Homo sapiens: one gene and its partners. The protein of the gene in region 1 interacts with the protein of each later gene in a pairwise test. Each region holds a gene or a part of one and is shown in the gene's direction. Other genes may lie near its edges.

The links. The genes of interacting proteins can lie anywhere in the genome.
Region 2: the proteins of PRMT2 (region 1) and HNRNPUL1 interact in a two-hybrid assay, tested with the Homo sapiens proteins (2 studies listed by BioGRID and IntAct).
Region 3: the proteins of PRMT2 (region 1) and RBM12 interact in binary tests that used the Homo sapiens proteins (3 or more experiments, as listed by UniProt).

What each region holds. Positions count from the first base shown.
Region 1 is NC_000021.9:46,631,073-46,638,702, forward strand, and holds the start of PRMT2 (protein arginine N-methyltransferase 2), read left to right. Parts: upstream 1-4,601; 5' UTR 4,602-4,691; intron 4,692-5,366; 5' UTR 5,367-5,475; intron 5,476-5,823; 5' UTR 5,824-5,879; coding exon 5,880-5,918; intron 5,919-7,630. UniProt on the Homo sapiens protein: Arginine methyltransferase that methylates the guanidino nitrogens of arginyl residues in proteins such as STAT3, FBL, histone H4. Acts as a coactivator (with NCOA2) of the androgen receptor (AR)-mediated transactivation.
Region 2 is NC_000019.10:41,288,370-41,295,401, forward strand, and holds part of HNRNPUL1 (heterogeneous nuclear ribonucleoprotein U-like protein 1), read left to right. Parts: intron 1-3,875; coding exon 3,876-4,142; intron 4,143-5,968; coding exon 5,969-6,091; intron 6,092-6,188; coding exon 6,189-6,317; intron 6,318-7,032.
Region 3 is NC_000020.11:35,648,395-35,654,902, reverse strand, and holds the end of RBM12 (RNA-binding protein 12), read left to right. Parts: coding exon 1-2,379; 3' UTR 2,380-5,978; downstream 5,979-6,508. Other genes in the region: CPNE1 (copine-1), read left to right, coding at 1,361-1,375.

The sequences.
Region 1 (7,630 bases):
GTTAGTTGCTGAGAATGATGGTTTCCAGTTTCATCCATGTCCCTGCAAAGGACATGAACTCATCCTTTTTATGGCTGCATAGTATTCCATGGTGTATATGTGCCACATTTTCTTTATCCAGTCCATCACTGATGGGCATTTGTGTTGGTTCCAAGTCTTTGCTATTGTGAACAGTGCTGCAATAAACATACGTGTGTGCATGTGTCTTCATAGTAGAATGATTTATATTCCTTTGGGCATATACCCAGTGATGGGATTGCTGGGTCAAATGGTATTTCTGGTTCTAGATCATTGAGGAATCGCCACACTGTCTTCCACAATGGTTGAACTAATTTACACTCCCACTAACAGCGTAAAAGCGTTCCTATTTCTCCACATCCTCTCCAGCATCTGTTGTTTCCTGACTTTCTAATGATCACCTTTCTAACTGGTGTGAGATGATATCTCATTGTGGTTTTGATTTGCATTTCTGTAATGACCAGTGATGAAGAGTTTTTTTTCACGTTTATTGGCCGCATTAATGTCTTCTTTTGAGAAGGGTTCATTTCTCTTCATTATTTTTTCTCTAATCTTATCTTCACACTTTATTTCATTAAGTTGATCTTCAGTCTCTGATATCCTTTCTTTTACCTGATTGATTTGGCTATTGATATTTGTGTATGCTTCATGAAGTTCTCGTGCTGTGTTTTTCAGCTCCATCAGGCCATTTATGTTCTTCCATTTGGGGCTGGGTTTATAGTTTTGTAACCCCTATGCCAAATGTTGACACCTTATAGTAATTGGCAGGGATAAGTAGGAAATTGCTTGATAAATAAATGCAAACAAAAATGTATGCTGGCAATTCTTAAGACATTTCTAAATTACTTTGCCACTATTTTTAAAGCTAACTTATTTATTAAAGATTTTAAGTAAACTTAACATTTGACTAGTCTTTCCCTTTTTCTAATAAAGTATTTTATTTGAGCACTTTTATTTTTCTTTAATTAATAAATAAATAATTTATTTGAGCACTTTTATTTTTCTTTAAGCCAATTAATTATAGCTCTTCTATATTTTTTAATAGAGAAACATTGTGTACGCAACACATAAATACATAGATGTATTAGGTATACCGATAGAAGTACATCTTATAGATTCCTAAGACCTCTTTTTTTTTTTCTATCTTAGACTTGCAAACTCTTGATCATCTGTGTCATTGCCCTGGCAGTTGCCGGCTAAATAGCCCTAAATCTGCATATTAAAGGAAACTATTAGATGAAAAATTAGATAGCAAAATTTACATTTTAAGGTACAGAGAGGAAAAAGTCTGGTGGTGCTAAAGAGAGATTAAAAATGGATGTGAAATCAAACATAAAATTATGAAAATCTATCATAGGATTGTATAAGGAGACCAGTTTTATTTAGACAGAGACTCCCTATATTTTAACTGGATCTCTGAGCTCTGGGCAGACCCTACACTGAATCCTGGGTCTCCAAAAAGCGAAAATTATTATGAGGTTAGACTACATCATGCTTTTACAGTGCACTTAAAAAACTTTTTTCAACAAAGACATTTCTACATGTCTAAACTATACTATTCCTTAAGAACTCCAGAGTAGCCTCTGTTGCAGTAACTATTTTAGTAAAAAAATTAGGTAACACAATACAAAAGCAAGCAGTTTAAGAGCTGAGATGAAAAAAAAAAAAAGCTGAGATGAACTTGTCTGTTTACACATTTGGGGTTCCATAAGGAAACAGAGGTTTCTCCTCCAAGGGGAATCTGGCACCTTCTCCGTTTTCTGTAAGGAACCCTGGGTATTACAAACTATATTAGGTTTCCCATGAAGCAGAGGGTGCAAGAGAAAGAAGACACGACAAAAGTAAATGAAGAAAACAGAAGCCAGTCAACTAAGAAGAAAAAAACTTTTGCTCAAAAAGACAAGGTCCTAGGAGAGAAAAAAACAAAAAAAACAAAACTGGAAGCCTTTTAAATACAAACACACACACACAGGCACACAACACACATATGTTGGATGTTAGCTTTTAATTAAGCTTTTAACCATTGAGCTCCTTAAAAATAAACTTTTTCAATCTCATTACTGGCTGGGCATGGTGGCTCATGCCTGTAATCCCAACACTTTGGGAGGCCGAGGTAGGCGGATCACTTGAGGCCAGTTTGAGACCAGCCTGGCCAACATGGTGAAACCCCATCTCTACCAAAAAAATACAAAAATGAGCTGGGTGTGGTGGTGCAGGCCTATAATGCCAGCTACTCAGGAGGCTAAGGCATGGGAATCACTTGAACCTGGGAGGTGGAGGTTGCAGTGAGCTGAGATTGTGCCACTGCACCCCAGCCTGGAACACAGAGCCAGACTCTGTCTAAATAAATAAATAAATCTCATTATCATATTTCAGCTAGGACTAATTGCTGCTATTTCAGAAGTACCAAGTATCAAACCAGAAAGGGCTTAATTTAGGAACTAAACCCAGGCTGTGGTGGTGGAAAAAAAGAAGGCAGAACCCTTAGGTATGGAACTGCAGTGTGGGGTGACAGACATTACTCTTTTTGGTTGGTCTGGCTAGCAAAAATGTGGCCTTGTTATGTAAGAAAAGCCCTTTAAGTAGTCAAAATAAATTTTTTTTTTCTTTTTCCTTTTGCTAGCTGTTTTTCTCCCCCCACCACATCACCTTTTGTGTGTGTGTGTGTGGTGGGGAGGGGTTGAAACTTAGCCACTTCAGAGGCCTCACTTCTCATAATTTGGAACTTTCCTTTGGTTTCGATCAAGTCAGATAGAGTTCGTCAAACTCAATGCGAAAAAGACAAAAGAACAAAAAACAGAAACAACAACAAAAAAACCAGTTAAGCGAAACGAAGGATTGGGCAATTTATAAGGTTACTGAGCACACTAATGGTAAGGAGAAATTAAGACCAGCTGGTTGTTAATCTTAATAGCCAAGACAAACCCCAATTCAGTTACTTCCTAGGGATGGGTCTGAGGCTGAAGATTGCTCTCTACCACCCTAGAAGCAGAGGAAGAAAACCCCTCATCTTTCCTGTGGGAAGCGAGCTCAAACTCCATAAACGAGTTACCTGCCTTCCATTGTCATGGAAGCAGGAAAAAACTACTACTTCCTTATGTTGGAAGAGAGTAAAGCACACCCCGCCCCCCAACCCCCGCCCAACACACAAAAGGAGTTGTACAGCAAAATAAACTAGATCTTGACTAAATCTGGGTAGATCAGGGATTCTCTGGAGGGGGTGCTTCCAGGCCTCAGCAAATTGTCCTATTGGTTTGAGCCATAAAGATAGCTCAAGCTGGTACTAAGGACTGACAGATTTGTCAAAGGTCAGTGGCACCTCTACTCAGAATCCCTTTGTGGTTACCAAAATGTGAACCTTGAATATCTGAGTCAGATCTCAGTCAACTTAGGAAGTTTATTTTGCTGAATTTAAGGATGCACGCCCATGACACGGCCGTCGGAGGCCCTGATGACATGTGCCCAAGGTGGTCAGAGCACAGTTTGGTTTTATACGTTTTAGGGAGACATGAGACATCAATCAATATATGTAAGATGAACATTGGTTTGGTCCGGAAGGGCGGGACAACTCAAAGCAAAGGCAGGAGGGAGCTTCCAGGTCATAGGTAAATATGAGACAAATCATTGCATTCCCTTGAGTTTCTGGTTAGCCTCTCCAGAGGTGGCAATCAGATACGCATTTATCTCAGTGAGCTGAGAGATGACTTTGAACAGAATGGGAGGCAGGTTTGCCCTAAGCAGTTCCCAACTTGACTTTTCCTTTTAAGCTTAATGATTTTGCGGCCCCCAAATTTATTTTCCTTCCACATTTTTTTTTTTAAATCAGACTTAAGGTCTGCCTTGATGTTAATGCTGGAGGAGTGTAAAAAGGCATGTCCAACTCTTACTTCCCTTCGAGGCCAGAATAGTCTCTCAGGTTGAACTTCAGGGTCCCCTGGTAAAGGAGGGAGTCCAGTCAGACGGCTGCGGGGGAGGGGGGGCTTCGAATTTTATGTTTTACAGGCATTAGCGCCACCCATTTCTCCTTAACCCCAAACTTCCTCTCCCCACAACAGAAACGTCATCATTCTGCTTCCACTTATCCAGAAGAAAGGCAGAGGGCGCACACTGCGCAGCGCGGATGGGAAAGTTAACTGAATTATTTGCGGGAAGACAGAGGAGGTGGGGGGTCCCCCAAGCCCCAGCCATTTTGTGGCTCGTAGGGGTTGTCGCTTCCCAAGCCGTGAATGGCCCAAACCCGCCCCCCGCCCCAGGTCGGACTCCTGCCCCGCGCCCCTCTGGGTCGGACCCCAAGCCGAGCCCCCCAACCCCGCGGCTGGGCTGGGCGATTGGGGACGAGCTCCACACATGGAGAACCTGGCCTCGCCTCGCAAGACCGCGGGACGCGCAGATGTGAAGTGCGCCTGCGCGGGGCGCAGCCCCAGCTGCAGACGATCTGTGAGCGACGCGCCGGCGCAAGTCGAGGGCGGTGGCTTGGCTTCCCTGGAATGGGGGACGTCTTAGGACTGCGCCTGCGCGGGGCGCCGGGCCCTGGGCGGGGCCTTCCCGGCTGACGGCCTGCGTGCACTGCGCTTGCGCGGGTTGAGGGCGGTGGCTCAGGCTCCTGGAAAGGACCGTCCACCCCTCCGCGCTGGCGGTGTGGACGCGGAACTCAGCGGAGAAACGCGATTGAGGTAGGTGTCCTGATGGGCAGCTCAGATGGCTGGACTGCACGTAAGGAAGGACAGGCCAGGTGAGGCGTCCTCGCACTGCGTGTGCGTCGCTGGCGGACAGAGGCCTCCGCCCCCTTTTGGGACCTCCGAGCGCCTTCGCGATCTCAGCCACTTTCCCTGGCGTCCAAACGGGAGCTCGGTCCCCGTCACACCCTTCCCTGCGTGCCGCACCCCTTCCCGGCCACTCCCGCCGTCCAGCGCCTTCTACGGCCACGCCCACCCCACCACCATCTCTGTCACGCCCTTCGCGGCCACGCCCACCTGCCTGGCGGCCCCTGCCCCGAAGCTCGCGGCGCTGTCCCAGCCTGACCCTCTCGTGCCCCTGCGTCCACGCGTGGCCCTCTCGCTTCCTGCCCCCTTCTCACCCCCCTTCACTGGCCACCTGTTCCAACCCTCCATGATCCTGTTCCTCCCGAGGGCATCTTAGGAGGGCAGGGTCCTGCGCGCACTGCGGCCTCCACTCCGACCCCGTCCCAGTTTGGACCCAGGTCTTCCAATGAAAATATAATTATGCAAATCAGTAAGCATTTGTAACTACGAATATCACAAAAATAAGCTTCAAGTCTGGATTTAGAAGTGAAGCATGCATTTTAAACAAAGAATTGCTATGCAATTTTAAAAACACATTGATCCCAGAGCAGTGTGTGGATTACACTATCACTGGAAAAATACGAATTGAGAAGAAGGAAAAGACTGGAAGATGCAGACCTTGGTTCCTGTTAGTGGAAACACTGTAAGGTCCCAGGTAGGGACTTTTAATTGGAATTAAAGCTATCACACTTCTAAGAAATTAATGAATACTGATTTATTGCCTTAAGTCGACACCTGATCTAACAGAAACTAACAGGCTTCAGCAAATGAACAAGATTAACACCTTGCAGACTAGTGAAGAAAACACACTATTTGAAGTTTATGATTTTTAAATGCTTTTGTCTCTGTAAAGTATTGTAAATTTTCATTTCTACACTAATCTTCACACATACACATTTTACTTCTATTTGGTAGAGGACATCATGCACATTAGAAGTTAAGTGAACTCAATTATTAAGCAATGTAACAAGTACTTTGTGTCTCCTTCTCTTTTTAAAAGTAGAAATGGAAAAGAAAATGAAATAAATCAGCAGTTATGAGGCAGAGCCTAAGAGAACTATGGCAACATCAGGTGACTGTCCCAGAAGTGAATCGCAGGTAATTTCCGTTCCACTTCCTAAAAATCTGTGTTTAATGAATGTGAGCATTACAGAGAGCTAAGCGTCAGCTCACAGATGTGATGGAGCTTGGCTTGTGCCTTGGAAGGTGGCCACCGGCAGTAGAATGCTTAAATGTGAAGATTGTGAGGCAGAGGAAACGCAGTGCCTGTAAGGTGACATCCTGCATTGGGCACCATAACAATTCTAAGGAAATACTTAGCCCCAAAACATCAGCATCATTTAGGGTTCCATTTTTGGTACGTGAACTGGCAAAGCAAGCATATTTTCTGAGCTGTTCAATAAAATTTCAGGCATAATACCAGCAATATATTGAAGGCAAGTTGGACACATTAGAAAAGATTTATGTATTCATACTGTTTCTGCCTGGGGTACTCATGTAGTTTCGTTCAAGTTAGCAGTAAAAAATACCCCTCAAATTGTAAAGACTGTTGATTATGTAAAAGTCACCAACTGAATAATAGATACTGTTTTTAAAAATCAAGCATTTCCGTATCTGTTATGTCAATTTTAATGTTTTCTTTTTTTCTCTTTCATTCCAATGAGCTTTCATTTGGCTTTTTATATATAGGAATTTTATTTATAGTCAGAATCTTTCGTTAATTTCTTTAATTATTCATAAAATGTTTTAATTCCGTGGACATCTTATTTTTCTTTTGAGAAATTTAACAAATATTAGGACATTTCCAGAATGATATTGTAAACATCAAGTACATTAAACAGTGTACATTAAGCTATATATATGTGTGTGTATATACATATATGTGTGTGTGTGTGTGTATATATATATGTATATGTAAAAAATACTGTCGGGTGTGTCTGTAGTTCAGCTACTCAGGAGGCTGAAGCAGGAGAATCACTTGGGGCCGGGAGTTTGAGGATGTGGTGTATTATGATTGTGCCTGTGAATAGCCACTGCATTCCAGCACGGCCAATAAACTGAGACTTCATCTCTTAAAAAAGAAAAAGCGACACTCTAGATAAAGTTTGTTCCCCAGTCTCAGTCCTATTCCTCCTCTTCTCTCTCTAGAGGCAAACACTACTGTGAATCATGAGTCTGTTTTGTGCCACTGCACCATTTTTATACCTCTATGGCTTATATAGATATACTTGAATGACATATGATATTGTTTGTGTGGGCTTTTTAGAGTTTCCATAGTGGTGTCATACTGTCAGTGTCACCTGTAGCTTGCCTCTTCATATAACTTTACCTTTGGGGAAGTTGTCCTTGTTATGTGTGTAATGCTGGTTCAATCCTGCCACTGTAGGGTACTCCTGTAGTGTGTTCCTTCTCTGAAAGTGTAAAGTATCCTATTTGTAGATATGTGTATGGGCCTGTTGCAGTCTCACTGCTACACAGTAGGCATATACCCCATTTTACTTATTCCCTTTTTGTTGGACACTTAAATTGTTTCTAGTTTTTTCTATTTCAAACAATGCTGTAGTGACCATCCGTCTCCATGCCTCTGTGCTCCAGTAATGGCATTGCAGGGTGCAAGGGATTGCAAGTTTCAGTTTTACTGGATAATGATCAGTTGTTCCCCACAATGACTTTACGAGTTCACAGGTCTGTCAGTAGCCCACAATAGTGCTTACTAACACTTGACAGTATCAGACTTTTAAGTTTTGGTCAGTCTCATGGGTTAGAAATGGTATTTTGTTATTTCAATTTTGCTGACTGGTCATGGTAGT
Region 2 (7,032 bases), on another chromosome or scaffold:
CAAGTGCTGGGATTACAGGCATGCGCCAGCATGCCCGGCTAATTTTGTAGTTTTAGTAGAGACAGGGTTTCACCATGTTGGTCAGGCTGGTCTCGAACTCCCGACCTCAGGTGATCTGCCCTCCTTGGCCTCCCAAAGTGCTGAGATTACAAGCGTGAGCCACCATGCCCGGCCTTGGTGGGGATCTTTTTATGGTACTACCAAGAGAGCTTCTTTGTACTTTTATATTGTCTGTAGTCATTGTATGACTGTACCATAATTGATTTAACCTAGCGCCTCCCTTTGGTGGACATGTCGTTACTTTTGCAGCTTTGTATTTAGTGACTGTAATGGCTGTCTAGTATTCTGATGCAGGGGTTTGGGTACCCTGCTTTAATTTAGCCCGTCTTCCTGTTAGTGGCTGTGAAAGTTGTTTCCTGGAACAGATAAATGCGGCTTGTCTTTTTTCCATTTACTGGAGTAACTTGGAGATCTTTTTGTAGCCCCACATATGGATCTCCTGTGCAATTTAGCCACTCCTACTTCCCCATTGGAGCACATTTTCCGTGCTGGCATGAGCATTTTGCACATAGAATTTTGCATTCTTGTGGGAATGTAGTTGTATTCCTTCTTGAAAGTTAGATTCTAAGTCAAAGGTATATTTTTAAATTTTCATAGCTACCACCAAGACTACACTCCAAACAGGTTGCAGTAATTTAACTTGTCACTGTGTGACAGTGTTTGCCAAAGTCTGTTCTTTCAGAGTATGAGGTTCTTTTGGTATGTGGCAGTATGGAACTCTAGGCCTTGACTCTTGCTTCAACCAGAACATCTCTGCATCCAGTCTTAAGATTCCTTATATAGTTTTCTTTGTTCAGAAGATACCACAACTTTAAAAAGGCTCAGGGTGAGGAGTTGGTGGGGGTGTAAAAATCATTGGTCTCCTGGAACAAGAGGGGAGGACATTGGTGTCAAATATCAAGTCCTCAATTTGCAAAACAAAAAGGTAAAACAGCCTTCCAAGTGGAGAACAGAATAACCCATTTCAGCAAACCATAAAGAGTATGATACTTAGAGCCTAGGGACAACAGAAAGAGGTGTGAGACACCAGGCTATAAAAATGGCAGGCTCTGAATTATGCCAGGCTTCAGGAGTTTGGGTCTTTAGGCCTGGGACTGACACAGGAGTGTTTCAGCAGGAACAACAACACAACTCCACTTGCCTTTTGGACAGATGGCTCTGTTGGTGGTAGATGGGTTGGTTGAGGGCGCCGGTTTCTGTGCATTATGGGAAGTTCCTATAGTGAAGCTGGTGGCCATAAGGAAGGCTAACTAACACCAACAGTCATACCTGCTCTCCATGGTCTTTTTTTTTTTTTTTTTTTTGAGAAGGAGTCTTGCTGTTGCCCGGCTGGAGTGCTGTGACATGATCTCGGCTCACTGCAACCTCCAACTCCCTAGTTCAAGTGATTCTCCTGCCTCAGCCTCCTGAGTAGCTGGGATTACAGGCACTCGCCACCATGACCAGCTAATTTTTGTATGTTTAGTAGAGACGGAGTTTCACCATGTTGGCCAAGATGGTCTTGATCTCTTGACCTCATGATCTGCCCACCTCGGCCTCCCAAAATGCTGGGATTACAGGCGTGAACCACCACATCCAGCCGCTCTCCATGGTCTTGACGTGGGTGCATGCTTAGAGATGAACAGGCATGAGGGCCTCTGACACAGAGCTGTGCCCTGTGAGCACTGAGGAGGTTAATGAGGAAGCTCCTCAAGGGAGGGTGCTTCTGTCGCTTCTTGAAGGGCAATTCCCAAGGTGGTCACCTGAATAGAGAAAGAAATTATACTTTCATATCAGAAAGCGAACCGTGTATTTTGCTTCAGTCTGCTATCTAATCTCAAGTTTTGAGCCTTTTCTTCTCTGAGATGGGCATTTAGAAAAATATTTAACAAACGTTTTAAAAATATAAATTTTAAAAAGGCAAAAAAACACTAAGAAAAAAAAGAGCCTCTCGTATCCTGCAGCCAAAGCAATGTTTCCAAAACACAGTTTTGAGCAGGCTGCTCCTCTATTCAAAATAAGTCAGACACTCTGCTCTGCCACCAGCATCAAGTTCAAATTCCTGCGGTAAATTAGAGTCCCTCACATGCCGAGGTAGGCCGTGTCCCCTCCCACCACTTCAGTCCCAGCCCCTTATTTCTAGCACAGTGCCTGACATTTTGCAGTGATAGCTCACATTCCTTGTGTGCTCACTGTGTATTAAATGTACTAGCCCATTTAACAGTTAGAATAAACATAGGCTGTATAAAATATTATTACCCCGCCCCCCTTTTTTTGATAAAGAAACAAGATGAAATAACTTAACCAAGGCCACAAGTTAGTAAATGGTAGAACTGAAGCCATCCACCTTCTAAAATGGGATCATAGGCTAGGCGTAGTGGCTCACACCTGTAATCCCAGCACTTTGGGAGGCTGAGGCGGGTGGATCACCTGAGGTCAGGAGTTCGAGACCAGCCTGACCAACATGGAGAAACCCCGTCTACTAAAAATACAAAATTAGCCGGGCGTGGTGGCACATGCCTGTAATCCCAGCTAATTGAGGCAGGAGAATCGCTTGAACCCAGGAGGCGGAGGTTGTGGTGGGCCGAGATTGCGCCATTGCACTCCAGCCTGGGCAACAAGAGTGAAATTCCGTCTCAACAAAAAGAGGGGGGATCTTAATTACTAACTTTAGCAATTCAATAAGTAGTTGTTACAGAATAAATGAATGTGGTCCCTGCATGGCTCTTCAGCTGTTCCTGAATTACTTCCCCCTCATCTTTTATGCCTCAGCCAATCTGACCTTGTGTTCTGTCACTGCTAGGCTTATATACAAGCAACTGAGAAACCTCAGAAACTTGCTTCTAGGTAGGTCATCTTACTGAATTATGATAGAGTGTCCTTGTCTCATTCCCCACTGGTCGCTAAGCTCTGTCGGTCCCAGATTATGCAGACATGTGTATCAGAAAGAGTACGAACTCAGGGAACATGTTGAACAAGCTGAACTCAGTTCGAAAAGGCCCTGCGGTGGCTTTCCTTCATCTGTTATATTCATAGACTGCCCTTTCTGGGTTTCTTTTGTTTGTTTTTGTAGAGATGGGGTCTCTTTCTGTTACCCAGGCTGTACTTGAACTCCTGGCCTCAAGCATCCTCCTGCCTTGGCTGCTCAAAGTGATGGGATTATAGGCGTGAGCCACTGCACCTGTCTCCTCATCAGTTTTCAGGACAGGACTGGACCACCTTTTCCTTCGTCTTCATCTCAGTCTAGGCACAAGACTCAAATACTTGGAGCTTCTTAAAATTACCTGCTTTAGGACAGGTGCAGTGGCTCAAGCCTATAATTCCAACAGTTTGGCAGGCCAAGGTGGGAAGATCACTTGAGTCCAGGATTTCAAGACCAGCCTGGGCAACATAACAAGACCCTGTCTCTACAAAAAAATTTAAAAATTAGCCAGGTGTGGAACATGCCTGTAGTCCCAGCTACTCAGGAGGCTGAGGTGGGAGGATTGCTTGAACCTGGAAGTTTGAGGTTGCGGTGAGCCCTAGCTGTGCCACTGCACTCAGCCTGGGGGACAGGGTGAGACCCTGTCTCAAAAAAAAAAAAAACAAAAAAAAAAAACTCTTGCTTACTTGCTTCATATCCACCAACTTTGGGGTCTTAGGCAAGGAGGACTTTGGGCTGGACATTCTCTGAGATGTTCACTGATGCTGCCCAGCTTACCTGTATGTTGGGGAAGGATGCACTTCAATCTGGAAAGCTGTCCACATTCTACTCCCTGCATCTACTGTCCTCACATTTGACTCCCAGTGCCTATGGCAAGAGTTGGCAATCATATTCCTTTGGCTTTTTCTCCTAGGATTTTGAATGTGGAAATGACGTGGAACTGTCTTTTACCAAGAATGGAAAGTGGATGGGCATTGCTTTCCGAATCCAGAAGGAAGCCTTGGGGGGTCAGGCCCTCTATCCTCATGTCCTGGTGAAGAATTGCGCAGTGGAGTTCAACTTCGGACAGAGAGCAGAGCCCTACTGTTCTGTCCTCCCGGGGTTTACCTTCATCCAGCACCTTCCCCTTAGTGAGCGTATCCGGGGCACCGTTGGACCAAAGAGCAAGGCAGAATGTGAGGTGAGTGGGGCCAGAATGTATTGGTGGCCACCTTGCTGCCAAGACAGAGGAGACACACACACACACACACACACAGACTTGCTGCGAGAGTAGCCTTGGGGCAAGTGGCCACTTTGTCCCAGCTCCTCAGGGTTGGACTCAGAGCTGAAAAGCTGCTCTGAGTGTGAGGTGAGGGGTGTTGGTGTGACCTAAGTTGAAGTCGGAGAGGCTACCTAAATCTCAGAAAGATTGCATCTTCTTCTTAAGTGAGGCCAGAATAGGGGAAAAGGAGGCTTTTCTTACAGCAGAAAAGGACACTAGGCGCTTCTTGGGGAGTGCACTGTGCCACCAAGTGTTCTTTTTTTTTCTTTAGAGACAGGGTCTCGCTCTGTCACCCAGGCTGGAGTGCAGTGGTGCGATCACGGCTTACTGCAGCCTTGACCTTCCAGGCTCAAGTGATCCTCCCACCTCAGCTTCTCGAGTAGCTGGGACCACAGGTACATGCCACCATGCCAGGCTAACTTTTTTAGCCACTGAGCCTGGCCCACCGAGTGTTCTTGAAGGAGGTTGAGTAAGTTCCACCTCTCACCCAGAGCTATCAAAAGATAAATGGCCTTTGGGAAGATTTGATTCCAAGAGCTATACTAGTGTCTTTTTTCTTAAAACAATATTTTTCTTGTATGTGTAAGTTATTTATGCTTGTTCTAGAAAATTAAGAAGTAAAAAATTTAAATTTTCATAATGCCATCATCTACAAATAAGTTTACTTGCAGAGTTTTGGAGTTCATCTGTTCTTTTTAATGTCTAAGTGCCTGTTTTATGCTCACAAACATTTATCATTGAGATTCTATGGTATAAGCATTATGATACCCTGCTCTTTTCACTTCACATTATTTTGTGAGCTTTATCCCATCACATAAAAACCTCTCTTTGAACATCATTTTTTCTTTTTTAAAAATCCTTCAAGGGAATGAACGTCATTCTTAATGGCCTTACAAACTCGCCACTCCCCCCTAGTCGGGCATTTAAGATGCATCTGTGTTTACCAAATTCTAAATGTACTGATTAGATACAATTCATGTCCTTGTGTGTGCAGCTCTGTTCCTATTTCATACTTAAAGAAAGTTGTACCACTTCTACCCACTCCATGGGGCCAGTCCCAGTACACAGCCTTCCCTGGGCTATTGCAGGGGGCGGGGAATGGGTCACATAATCCTGTAAATGGGCTGGGTTTGGTGGCAAATGCCTATAATTCCAGCACTTTGGGAGGCCAAGAAGGGAGGAGGATCCCTTGAGTATAGGAGTTTGAGACCAGTCTGGGCAACATAAGGAGACTCTCATTTCTACCAAAAAAAGAGAGAAAAAGATTAGCTGGGTGTGATGGTTTGTATCTGTAGTTCTAGCTACTCTGGAGGCTGATGTAGAAGGATTGCTTGAGCCTGGGAGTTCAAGGCTGCAGTGAGCTGTAATTGGGCCATTACACGCCAGCCTGGGCAATAGAGTGAGACCCTGTCTCAAAAAAACAAAATACTATAAATGCTAATGATGACAGCACTTGGTTTTTTGTTTTTGTTTTCCCCCGAAAGTCCTGGGATTATAGGCGTGAGCTACCGTGCCTGGCCAGCACTTGACTTAATGCTCACCCTGTCCCAGGCACTGTGCTCAGAGTCTGACAAGCCTGATCTTTTTGAATCCCGATACCAGTACTGTGAGGTAGATGGTATTACTGCTTCCGCTTTGTAGAGGCAGCCACAGCTCAGAGGTCCAGAGTCACACTCACAGTCACCACCGAGCCAAGTGGTGCCATACCACCATGCCGCAACACCTTCCCTGTCTTGTTCTTGTAGATTCTGATGATGGTGGGCCTGCCTGCTGCTGGCAAGACCACATGGGCCATCAAACATGCAGCCTCCAACCCTTCCAAGAAGTACAACATCCTGGGTACCAATGCCATCATGGATAAGATGCGGGTAAGGCCAGCCACTGGACTCTCCTTACTCACCTCCAACCTACTGAGTGCTGCCCTGCAACTAAAATCACTCACCCCTCACCAATTCCTGCCCGCAGGTGATGGGCCTACGCCGGCAGCGGAACTATGCTGGCCGCTGGGATGTCCTGATCCAGCAGGCCACCCAGTGCCTCAACCGCCTCATCCAGATTGCTGCCCGCAAGAAACGCAACTATATCCTAGATCAGGTACTTAATGATGACCATTGTGTCCTCAGGAGAAGGGAGGGGACCCCTTGCATGCCTGAGAATCTCCCTCTGGTCCCTTTCTTTTTTCCCCCGTAATGATGATGGACTGCTGTGCTAGTCGGGGGGGTCAGACCTTGTCATACATGATGACATGGTACTACACACAGCTGAGCCTGGACTGGGATCATGATCTAGGCCTACTTACTCAGACTCATCAGCAGCCCCAAAGAACATCAGGTAAGAACTGTTTAGCAAAATGGAAGGAGTATGGATTTCCAAGCCTGAGAGACTGGAGCTTGAATGCCAGCTCGGCTACTCCCTAGCTCTGTGCCTTTGGGCAGCTGACTTTATTCTCTGAATCTCCATCTCTTGGTTTGTAAAACAGGGATCTCAATACCATCTGCACCCCTAACGCAGGACCTGGCACTTAGTAGCTGGTGATTATTGTTAAATACTCTACAGAATAGGTAGAGTAGCTTTCATGCCAACAGCAGTGCTGTAAGGTAAATGCTATTATTGCTTCCGTCATTTTCTCTTCACAAATACGTATGACTGGCAGGTACATACCTAAGTCATATTTTCTACCTACACTTCAGTTAATGGTGGAGTTCTTAACATCAGGGACCTTGGAACCTTTGTATTTGAACATAAATATTGTATGCAGCTGCAGGTGTATCCTTTTTATGAAAAAGAAGGGAAAAAAAAACAGTTTTTT
Region 3 (6,508 bases), on another chromosome or scaffold:
CATGAAAGCAACAAAAACATACAGACATTTTCCACAGCCAGCGTAGGAACAGCTCCTCCAAATATGGGGGCTTCCTTTGGGAGCCCAACGTTTAGCTCAACTGTTCCAAGCACAGCCTCTCCAATGAACACAGTCCCGCCGCCACCAATTCCTCCAATTCCAGCGATGCCATCTCTGCCACCAATGCCATCCATTCCCCCAATTCCAGTTCCTCCTCCAGTACCTACATTGCCTCCTGTGCCTCCTGTGCCCCCGATTCCCCCAGTTCCTTCTGTGCCACCCATGACCCCACTGCCACCCATGTCGGGCATGCCGCCCTTGAATCCGCCACCTGTGGCACCTCTACCTGCTGGAATGAATGGCTCTGGAGCACCTATGAATTTGAACAATAATCTGAATCCTATGTTTCTTGGTCCGTTGAATCCTGTTAACCCTATCCAGATGAACTCTCAGAGCAGTGTGAAGCCACTCCCCATCAACCCTGATGATCTGTATGTCAGTGTGCATGGAATGCCCTTTTCTGCAATGGAAAATGATGTCAGAGATTTTTTTCATGGGCTCCGTGTTGATGCAGTGCATTTGTTGAAAGATCATGTAGGTCGAAATAATGGGAATGGATTGGTTAAGTTTCTCTCCCCTCAAGATACATTTGAAGCTTTGAAACGAAACAGAATGCTGATGATTCAACGCTATGTGGAAGTTAGCCCTGCCACAGAAAGACAGTGGGTAGCTGCTGGAGGCCATATCACTTTTAAGCAAAATATGGGACCTTCTGGACAAACTCATCCCCCTCCTCAGACACTTCCCAGGTCAAAATCGCCCAGTGGGCAGAAAAGATCAAGGTCAAGATCACCACATGAGGCTGGTTTTTGTGTTTACTTGAAAGGGCTACCATTTGAAGCAGAAAACAAACATGTCATTGATTTTTTTAAAAAGCTGGATATTGTGGAAGATAGTATTTATATAGCTTATGGACCCAATGGGAAAGCAACTGGCGAAGGCTTTGTAGAGTTCAGAAATGAGGCTGACTATAAGGCTGCTCTGTGTCGTCATAAACAGTACATGGGCAATCGCTTTATTCAAGTTCATCCAATTACTAAGAAAGGTATGCTAGAAAAGATAGATATGATTCGAAAAAGACTGCAGAACTTCAGCTATGACCAGAGGGAAATGATACTAAATCCAGAGGGGGATGTCAACTCTGCCAAAGTCTGTGCCCACATAACAAATATTCCATTCAGCATTACAAAGATGGATGTTCTTCAGTTCCTAGAAGGAATCCCAGTGGATGAAAATGCTGTACATGTTCTTGTTGATAACAATGGGCAAGGTCTAGGACAGGCATTGGTTCAGTTTAAAAATGAAGATGATGCACGTAAGTCTGAACGCTTACACCGTAAAAAACTTAATGGGAGAGAAGCTTTTGTTCATGTAGTTACCCTAGAAGATATGAGAGAGATTGAGAAAAATCCCCCTGCCCAAGGAAAAAAGGGATTAAAGATGCCTGTGCCAGGTAATCCTGCAGTTCCAGGAATGCCCAATGCGGGACTGCCCGGTGTGGGACTGCCCAGTGCAGGACTTCCCGGTGCAGGCCTGCCCAGCACAGGACTGCCTGGTTCAGCAATAACCAGTGCAGGACTGCCTGGTGCGGGAATGCCCAGTGCAGGAATACCTAGTGCAGGAGGTGAAGAGCATGCCTTCCTGACTGTAGGATCAAAGGAAGCCAATAATGGGCCTCCATTTAACTTTCCTGGTAATTTTGGTGGATCAAATGCCTTTGGGCCACCAATCCCTCCTCCAGGATTAGGAGGCGGGGCCTTTGGTGATGCTAGGCCTGGTATGCCTTCAGTTGGAAACAGTGGTTTGCCTGGTCTAGGACTGGATGTTCCGGGTTTTGGAGGTGGACCAAACAATTTAAGTGGGCCATCGGGATTTGGAGGGGGCCCTCAGAATTTTGGAAATGGCCCTGGTAGCTTAGGCGGTCCCCCGGGGTTTGGAAGTGGCCCTCCTGGTCTTGGAAGTGCCCCTGGGCATTTGGGTGGGCCACCAGCTTTTGGGCCTGGCCCCGGCCCCGGCCCCGGCCCTGGCCCAATCCATATTGGTGGTCCCCCTGGCTTTGCATCTAGTTCTGGAAAACCAGGACCGACAGTAATTAAAGTGCAAAACATGCCCTTTACTGTGTCTATTGATGAGATTTTAGATTTCTTTTATGGCTATCAAGTAATCCCAGGCTCAGTGTGTTTAAAATACAATGAAAAAGGTATGCCCACAGGTGAAGCCATGGTGGCCTTTGAGTCTCGGGATGAAGCCACAGCTGCTGTCATTGACTTAAATGACAGGCCTATAGGTTCAAGAAAAGTAAAACTTGTATTAGGGTAGCCATTCACATCATTTTTTATAGGGTAGATCTTCATATTGCTGTGATTAATGCATCCAGATTGTTTTCCTAGTATTTCCAGGTTAGAACCTGTGGATTGTTTCAATTGCATATAGCTTGGTTTCCATAACATAGAGCATTGGTTGACTGTTTACAGAAGACTCACTCACCAGGATAAACATTGCTGTATGTTACAGTAAAGCTATCTGGAGAGAACACATAAATGATTTTGGCATACCATTAGAGAAACCATTTGTAAAACTCAAATGACCACATAAAGCTTATCAAGGAGTCTAGATTGGTTTTGTTTTATACCATATGGGATGAAGAAAATAGAAATGTCAGTAGAACTCATTGAGGGTGCTCTTGCCAGCTGCTGAAAATAGAAGTTGGCTACTCTCAGAATTTGGTTTAAAGCTGGACAGATTTGCTTTGTTATAGGGTAAAGCTTTGTCTAAAGTCCTCATTTTCTTTTAAAATTGAATAAAATTTCTGTATACAGATTCATTGTATGTACCTTTATTGCTTCTTAAGGGTCCTTGCTGTATAGACAGTCCTGCTTCAGAAGTTGCTGCTTTGTTTGTCTAATTGACTCATTTGTAAATGAGCAGAACTGTTTTGTTGGTTTTTTTCCCTAAATATAAAAGTCCACACTTCGTTTGTGCTATAACCTCAAACTTTGATTTCTAATGTCACACTTAAAACTGTGTGGAATAAGACTTTTGCCATAAAAATAAACTATGGAGTCCTTTATCTACCAGAGCCTTTTTGGTTTGACCGCCACGATTTAGGTTAGTCAGTTTAAAAATTGTTCATGTTGTTTGGATGGTATCGAAAACCAGAAACCACTTTTAATAATGTGTTTAAGATACTTGATTTGAAGTCCTTTTCATATGGACTAATTGTAGTATCAATTTCCTCCTGTCCCGATTATGTGAAATTTTGGCCTTTAAACAAAGAGGGGCCCATTCATAAGAAAGTGTTATATCTAGGTTTTTAAAACTGAAGTTGAAATTATCTTTGTTAGCAGTAGTAGTATAGAATAAAAGATCCGTATGCTGGTTCGTAGATTGATACGTGTTAGTCCTGTTATTTGGAGGCTTTTTGGCATAGTTGTTCGATCAGGAGCCTGTTTACTAAAAGTCTTCATACAGAGTACAAGTGCAGCCGCCAGAGGAGAAAATTGAGATTCTTGACCCTTTCATACTCTTTTCTTTGGTATTCAGGACACTAAGGCAGGAGGACCACATGAGTTCTGGTTGGTAAGTGTCCTTGTCATGAAAACACTTGCCTTACAAGGCTCTAATTATGATTTCCCTAGTCAGTGCTCTGAAGATGTGTCACATTATATTATAAACAATACGGAAGGGGAGATAGGTGAGATGATATGAAAAACAAATTTTCTCACTGTCATAAAAGGCTCTAATTATGGTTACTTTCCTTGTGATGAAAAACTTGGCCTTACAGGGCTCTAGTTATGGTTACTTTCCCTAGTCAATGCTCTGAAAATGTGTCACATTATAAACAATACAGAAGGAGAGATAGATGAGAGATCATGAAAACCAAATTTTATCTTTTACATGGCCCCTTTGTCTTCGTTTGAAACATCCCCAACATTTCCTACAAATCAGCGTAGTTACAAAGGGGTCAGTCTTTTAAAATAAGTATTTCCTATTAAACTATATATATATACAGTGCCTTTTTGGTGTTGTGAGTCAGTGGAACACTGAAATACAGCGGTTGTGTAATTTAAGAGTGGCAACAGTTTCATTTGATAAGATTTGAAAAGGCTTTTTATCACTACAATCTTAGAGGATTGACAGTACAGGATTTTTGTTTAAGAGAAGGATTGTTTAGACTCAAGAGGTGACTATGTTGTGGGTCTTTTGATAATTCATGAATACAGATTTGCTTTGACCGATCACTAGATACTGCCTCCTCAATTTCAAAAGCAATATAACGTTTGTATATGCTGTTTAATTTAAGTTAATGTTAAGTAATCATTTCTCATTCCAAAGACAATGCAAAAAACTTCAGCACTGCTTGAGAGTTGTATTTCAGCCACAGATATTTTCTCCATTGGAAAGCTATTTTCATTTTAGAAAAATGGGTTGTTTGAAGATGAAAGTCTTTTATCTTTTTTCACAATTTATTTTGGTTATATGTTCGTACATTCTTATTAAATATTTCATACACTTTATTGCAACTACTTTGTTATTTCTACATCTTAGATAAATGCTGAAAAGGAAAACGATTTCATTGTTCATCTAATTAAATAAATTAAAAGAGCGGTTTGTGTAGAAATTGGAGAGAACTATGTTTTATATGAATCACAACAGTGCTCGTTGTGGACTGTAATTAAATGCTTTGCCCTCTGGAACTTGATTTTTGTGTATCTGAGATTTATTAACAGTGCTAACTGCTAAGGATACTGTTTATCTTGTTCTGGGCATTGGAGTTTCAGTTTTTAAAAAATTCTTGAAAATGTATTCTGTGAAACTACTCATACCTCTCTTCCTGCGAATTTTCTCCTAAGAACTAGGTTTGGGGTAGAAATGAATTGACATTATTTTCTCATTTGCTTTGTATGGTATGAAGGATTTGTAAAGCTTTGCTCAAAGTTGTGTGCATTTGTAAACACTATCATGATATTTTCAATTTTATGTGTAAATTTTATTGTCTGTTTTTGGTGACTCTGACATTAATGGAAGAGAATATTTTCCATTAGATTTAATTTTTTTTCCTCTCCCTTCTGATTTTTTTTTTATTGGTGTTCATTTTTCTTTTGATTTAAAGGATTAGAGAAATCTACAAATGTATGTCATAAATAAGCAAATTTGTAAACTTTTCTGAACTTTAGTGAAACATTTAGTTCACAAGCATAATTTGGAGGTGTGTTCTGTGTTTACACAGTAGTTTGGATGTACAATTATTATTAGTGGCTTTTTAAAAAATGAAACAGTGTTAAGTGAAATGTAGTTCCTAGCTTTGTACTCCAAGTTGTCAAAGCATCAACAATGAAAATTCGATTAGGAAACTTTATTTAAAATTTCAGGTAGTAATATTCAGTGTAGTTAAGGCCAGTCTTAACCCACTGGATGAAAATCTAGGACTGTATGGAAGTAAGCAAACATTACATTTTTAGGTGGAAATAGTCAGCCTTGCATAAAAACAAGGATGCGTGAAAGCCTTAAATTCCAGCTCCCTTTTACTGGAGTCTGTGGTTGTGTACAGGTATGGGCCAAGTGTAAAATCTCATCAATTTTAAGAACACTCGGGAAATGAGTAAAGAAAATGTAAAATTGCTGCTAGTCAAATCTTTTGGAAAGAATTTCTGGAAGTGGTCACTTTAAAAATTATTTTCCACCCTTGCAAAATTGCCACATTTAAATTGTTTTACTGGCAGTTCTATAGTAGTCCAGACTTTAGAAACCAAACACAACAAAATGGCTTGTTGCCAATATGGCCACAACATTGCCAGCAAATACTGCCTTGGCATCACTCAGCAGAGGTTTTTGTTTATAAAGATGAAGTCTTGAATACTGTTCAATAAACTTGTCAAAAAATAAAACAGGCTGATGCTTTTAATGCTTTAACTGCACAAAAGTACTTTACTGAGCTATAATATTATCTTGTCAGGGTTTTTGTTTTGTTTTGTTTTTAAACCTGAAAATATTTTGTGCCTTTGGAGAGGTAGATTTGGTAATCTTGGAGAGGTAAAAATTGTTGCTTATCCTTGCCTGCTAATGCTGAAGTGTCAAGAGAAGAGGATACTTGGAACAGCAGGGAGGAAACTTGATTCAAGTCCATAGTATCCACCTTTTCAGAATTTTATGTGTATGATGTGTTGGCAAACAAAGCCCTTAAATGTTGAAAACTTTTTATCTTGAAAGAGTTTAGCTTGTATTAGAATTTGGATACCCAGTGTGTTTTAGAGGGGGCTAGACATATAATTCCAGGTAGTAGCTGAGCCATTATTAAATAATCGGGATTTGACTAAGCAATGGACAAATCACTGAGTGAAATCAGCTGCCTACAGATATCCAAAATGGCTTTTACCATCTGAAAGGGGTGGACTGTGTGATAATATGTCTCCTTTTCTTGTTCAGGAGAGATCAGTTATGTAATTCA